Regions from separate parts of the Homo sapiens genome. Here region 2 is linked to region 1. The links come from fine-mapping of genetic effects on gene expression. A gene starts in region 1. The other region holds a variant in brackets. All regions are shown on one strand. Distances are between the middles of the regions. Region 1 holds the start of CMPK1 (cytidine/uridine monophosphate kinase 1). Region 2 overlaps LINC01389 (long intergenic non-protein coding RNA 1389).

Evidence for each region. PIP is the estimated chance that this variant, and not a neighbour inherited with it, causes the effect.
Region 2: its variant is fine-mapped to the expression of CMPK1 in blood mononuclear cells (TOPMed, PIP above 0.99).

The regions. Positions count from the first base shown.
Region 1 is chr1:47,332,216-47,335,125 of GRCh38, reverse strand. CMPK1 (cytidine/uridine monophosphate kinase 1) reads right to left here and starts at 1,336. Exons shown (of 6, transcript NM_016308.3): 1 at 1,010-1,336. The coding sequence starts at 1,180. RefSeq lists enhancers at 214-273, 1-593, 594-1,397 and a silencer at 784-1,423.
Region 2 is chr1:47,384,017-47,386,926 of GRCh38, reverse strand. It overlaps LINC01389 (long intergenic non-protein coding RNA 1389), which reads left to right. Exons shown (of 5, transcript NR_126355.1): 4 at 571-679. Among named protein-coding and RNA genes, the nearest start is that of FOXE3, 31 kb to the left of the region's middle. The variant C/T (reference allele first, on the strand shown) is at 1,155.

The DNA.
Region 1 (2,910 bases):
ATTTCACTAGAGGCCACCAATGGTCGCCTCTTCTGTTTCTAGATATCCTGTTTTCCTTCTTTCCCAAGCATTCCCCAGATTGTCCATGAAGCCTTTTTTTCCCACAGTGTCAATGCAGCTAACCAACCATACATCTAGCTCAAAAATTGTTAAAAGAATTGAACTGGTAACCTGTCTCAAAGCAAAAGAAAAAAAAGTAACAGCATTTTACATTTGGGAGGTGTTTTATATCCTGAGAAAATCTGGGTTCAGAGACTCTTTTTACTGTATTACAAGGGCTAACTGAGGCTGGGAGACAGGAAGTGACCGAGGGCCGAGCGTGAGTTGGCAGCAGGGCCAAAGGTTGAAGCTTGATCTCAGAACAGCACTCCCGGCTTTCCCCATCCCCGACCCGGGCCGAGCCTCAGGGCTGGCTCCGCCCTAAAGCTTGCGGGGACGGGGCTCGAGAGTGCCAGCGGCAGCCCACAGCACGCCTAAAATAACACCCCGCCCCACGGGCCTCCTTTCTAGAGTAAAGACACGTTCGGTGACAGTGCGGAGTTTAGGGAACCAGAGGGAAGGCGCGGAGAAGAAAAATAGGTCTCTCCTTCAGACAACTGTGGGCGCACACGGCCTCTAACCCAAATCCGCGCTCCTGCTGCCTTCACCTGCCACACGATCAGCGACACGCTAACCTCTGCGCGCTGGGGGACCCCCAAAGGTTGGCCTCCGGGATCCCTCTCCCAGCCCACTCTAGAGACGAATCTGGTCCCCAAAATGTAAGAAAAGAAGGGGCGCAGGAACAAAGCGACCTCAAGCGGTGGCCCCCAAGGCGGGCGGGCGCGGACTACAAGTCCCGGCACGCCGCGCGCCGGCGGCCCTCGGCCACTGCCACGCGGGCGGCGCGGTGGCCGCCGGGACTCGTAGTCTGCGGCTCGGCGACTCCGCGGGGCGCGGACTAGGGGCGGCGGGACAGGCCGGCCCGCATCCCGTCAAGCCCCAAGGAGCCCGCCTGCTGCCCGGGCCTCACCTCGACGATGCGGGCGCACTGGGTCCCCTTGCCGGCGCCGGGGCCGCCGAGGACGAACACGACCAGCGGCTTCATGAGACGTGGAGAGCAGAGGAGAATCGGCCGGCGGGTCTGCAGCAGGAAGCTAAGGCCCAGGACGTGGAGCAGCCCGCTGCGGCAGCGGCTCAGCATACACCGCGCCTCGGCCGGACGCTGAGGGAGCTGACAGCGGCCGGCGCGGCGCGGGGCGGGGCGGGGAGGCGGCGGGAGAAAGGGGCGGGCTGAGCCGGCGCCCGCCGCGGCCCCGCCGCCGTGGCTGCCCGGGCGTCCGCGGCCCTGTCGGAAGGGGAGGAGCTTCGCACGGCGGCGGCGTCTCGGCGACACTCGTGCGGTCCGCGCCAGCTTTCCTCCAACCCTTGGGTGGTTATTAGTGCTTTCTGACTGCAGATATTTTATCCTGCGCCCTCAAGTGTCTGGTGCTGAGCTGGAGGCTGGGACGTGATCCGCGGGAGAGCAAAACCTATTGTCTCTGCTCGCAATGAGTTTCCATTCCAGCCAGTGAGGTATGGGGAGGTAGCCAGTGTGAATGAGTAAACACCAGTACATACAAAAGGCAGTACGATTTTGAAGAAATAACAAGTAGGACATAAGATGGCCAGGGTCGCCAGAGAAGGCTTCAGAAGAGGTGACATTCAAGCCAAGACAAAAGGATAGAAAAGAGCGAAACCAGGCAAACACCAGGATAGAGTGTCCCACAGAGAAAAGCATGTGCAAAAAATCTAAGTTGGTTTGGCATGTTAAAGCAATTGAAGGAAGGCCTGGCTGGGCGCGGTGGCTCACGCCTGTAATCCCAGCATTTTGGGAGGCTGAGGCAGGAGGATGGCTTGAGCCCAGGAGTTCGAGACCAGCCTGGACAACATGACGAGACCCCGTCTCGACCAAAAATTTAAAAGCCGGGCACCGTGACCCGTGCCTGTGATCCCAGCTACTGGGATGTTCACTTGAGCCTAGGAGCCGTAATAGCACCACTGCACTCCTGCCTAGGTGACAATGAGACTGCTTCAAAAAAAAAAAAGGAAAAAAGGCCAGTGACAGTGAGACCAGGGCTGAGTCAAATGAGGGGAGAATGGAAGGTGAAAAGTTGAGAAAGTGAGGTCGGTGGCAGATCAGGACTTTTGATTATGGAAAGGAATTTGGGCTGTATTCTAACAGCAATGGAAGCCCTTTAACTCCGTTCGCCTGCCCCCTTCATTAGGGAAGAATCTTAAGGGAGAAGAAAAGGAGACGTTCAAGAACTGAGCCTTGGTGCATACAGGCCTTTAAAAGGCCTTCTGGCCAACGTTAAGAGCTCATTTGATATTTGAGGTAACGGATTCAAAATAATTGAAGATGTTTGGCCATTCAGGCACAGGCAGAGAAGGCAGCTTGTTGCATTTACTGAGGGTTGGGATTTTGCCTGGCAAGTACAACAGAGAGAGGGGGCCAAGTGATGAGAGTGTTTGGAAGAGAATGTTCATGATGCTGTGTGTAGAATCAAAACCATACAGGAAAGCAAATAATGGCACATGAAGCCTGGTAGTGGAGGGGTTGGAGGGTGGTGGGGAAAGGGACCAATGTCTTAGAGCATTGGCCCAAGAAAGATTGCAGTGGGGTATATGAGCAAGTGCTCTGGCAGTATGGATGCTGCTGGTCTGAGTGGGATATTTGGAATTGAAATGTCCCAGCTTCTGAGTTTCTGATGATGCCAAGGTCCAGGGTGAGACCATGGGAATGGAAGACTGAGGCAGAATGCATGTCCTGTTTTTAGAACTAAGAGTCCAGGGTGTTAGATTTGTCGTACAGGTACAAGTTCAAGTCAGATAGTGCTGGAGTGAACAAAGACTATGGGAAAGGAACTAAGCTGTTTAGGGCAGAGTGACCAG
Region 2 (2,910 bases), 52 kb before region 1:
GTGAGCTCAGGAATGGCAGCAGACTAAGCAGCTGTTTAATTTGTGAGCTTTCACTATGGTTTGTCACCAACTGTCAATTCATCAACACTAAGTACCTACTCTGTGCTAGACACTGTGGATAAAAAGACCAAGACTTTTTTTTTTTCAACTTTTATTTTAAATTCAGGGAATACATGTGCAGGTCTCTTAATGGTTATATTGCATGATGCTGAGGTATGGGGTACAATTGATCTTGTCACCCAGGTAGTGAGCATAATTCCCAATAGGTAGTTTTTCCTTGCCTCTCACTCTTTTGCAGCCCCCAGTGTCTATTGTTCCCATCTTTGTGTCCATGCGTACCCAATGCTTAGCTCCCACTTTTAAGTGAGAACATATATTTACTTTTGTTCCTGTATTAATTCGCTTAGGATAATGGCCTCCAGCTTTATCCATGTTGCTGCAAAGGGCATACTTTTGGGTTTTCTTTATGGCTGCATAGTATTCCAGGGTGTATATGTACCACATTTTCTTTATCCAGTCCACCGCTGAAGGGCACCTGACTTGATTCCATGTCTTTGCTATTGTGTATAGTGCTGCGATGAACTTATGAGTGAATGCATCAAAAAGACCAAGTTGAACTTATGAGCGAATGCATCAAAAAGACCAAGACTTGATCCCTTGCCCACAAAGATACAAGGCTGTGAGTTTTCATTATCTGCTCTGATCACTTTGTTTACTGTGGTGGTTCTCAAAGTATCAATATCAGTATCACTTTACACATAAAAGAAATGCAGGGCTGGGAGCGTGGCTCACGCCTATAATCCCAGCACTTTGGGAGGCCGAGGCAGGCGGATCATGAGGTCAAGAGATCGAGACCATCCTGGCCAACATGGTGAAGCCCGTCTCTACTAAAAATACAAAAATTAGCTGGGCGTGGGGCCACATGCCTGTAGTCGCAGCTACTCGGGAGGCTGAGGCAGGAGAATCGCTCGAACCCGGGAGGCAGAGGTTGCAGTGAGCCAAGATCGCGCCACTGCACTCCAGCCTGGCAACAGAGCGAGACTCTGGCTCTAAATAAATAAATAAATAAATAAGAGGCCAGGCGCGGTGGTTCATGCCTTCAATCCCAGCACTTTGGGAGGCAAAGGCAGGGGGATCACTTGAAGTCAGGAGTT[C/T]GAGACCAGCCTGGCCAACATGGTGAAACCCCACCTCTACTAAAAATACAAAAATTATCCAGGTGTGGTGGCATGTGCCTGTAGTCCCAGCTACTTGGGAGGCTGAGGCAGAATCACTTAAACCTGGGAGGCAGAGGTTGCAGTGAACCAAGACTGCACCACTGTACTCCAGCCCGAATGACAGAGTGAGACTCTGTCTCAAAAATAAAATAAAATAAAATAAAAGTAATTAAATTAGAATTTCTGGGGGCAGGGCCTGAGGCATTGGTTCTTGTTTTAAATATGGTTAAAAAGACATTCAACAAATGCTCAGCATACTGAATGAAATCCTGCTACATAGTAACATAGTGGTTCTGGAGTATCACAGGATACTACTTTGCTTTTCCAAGTGTTTGTTAGGAATGACTGAGGTAAATGCATGTTAGTGGCCGGGCACGGTGGCTCAGTGGCTCACACCTGTAATCCCAACATTTTGGGAGGCCAAGGCAGGCAGATCACTTGAGGTCAGGAGTTCGAGACCAGTCTGGGCAACATGTCTCTATAAAGTTTTTTTAAAAATTAGGTGGGCGTGGTGGTACATGCATGTGGTCCCAGCTACTCGGAAAGCTGAGGTGGGAGGGTCGTTTGAGCCTGATCAAGGGCAGAGGTTGCAGTTGGGCAACAGAGCCAGACCCTGTCCTTTTTAAAAAAAAAAAAAAAAAAAAAAAACATGTTGGTGTTGAGGAGTAAGAGCTGGGAGAAAGGAGAACTGGGTTCTAGGCCTAGTTCTGCTCCTAACTGTCTGGAGGGCTTTGAAGAGGACACTTTCCTTCTTTCAATATACAAACATTTATTTATCTACTCTGTGTCAGGCTATTAAGACAATAGAGAAATCCAACTAAGACCTCTGAAATCTCTTTCCCATTCAAAGACTCCATTGATTAAGAACCACAACACACAGCTATAGAGGAGAAGGCAGGCTAAAAGCATCTAACTTTATTCTTTTTGAATTTAATAAATAGATACTAAAGTGCTTAGGATGTACTATAATCTTATAAGGCTTCAAGTAGAAATTTATATTAAGTCGTTTCAAATCTGTGGCGTGAACAAAAACTGTCAAAAGCCTTCAGAAAGCAGAGATTTCCCATGTCCTAACATATAGTGAAACAGAGGTACAATAGGTAAAACAAATCTATCAACATAGATTGAACTATGGATGAGTGGGTGAGATTTTTCGCCCAAACATTGTTTTCTTATCCCTTTCTTTTTTTTTCTCCAAGATAGTCACATTGTAAGTCTTTTCATGAGTTGTGTACTGAAAACAGAGGGAAGCTGATGGGGTCCCAGTACTTTACGATTATCAGCTCCCAATCTTCAGGGGGAACGAAAATAGAATCCTAAGAGGTCACAAGCAGACTCTACTGGGATCCAAAATTCAGTGATATAACTTGTAGCTACAGCTACTGCCAAAAATATTTTTCCATTTCAGTTTATTTTTTCAACAAATATTGAGTGCCTACTATGTGCAGGCACTGGTCTAGGTATTGGAAAACAGGAATAAACAAGGTAAGTGCTCTTCTGGCACTTAAAATCTAGAGGGGAAATCAACAATAAGTAAAAGTAACTTCACATGGTGATATATGCACTGAGAAAATAAACAAGGGTAATAGACTAGTGATGGGAAGCACGGGGGGTATATTAGAGGTCACATTGCCTTATTACAGATAGGCAGCAGGGGCTACTGGACAGGAGGCAGATCTTTTTTTTTTTTTTGATA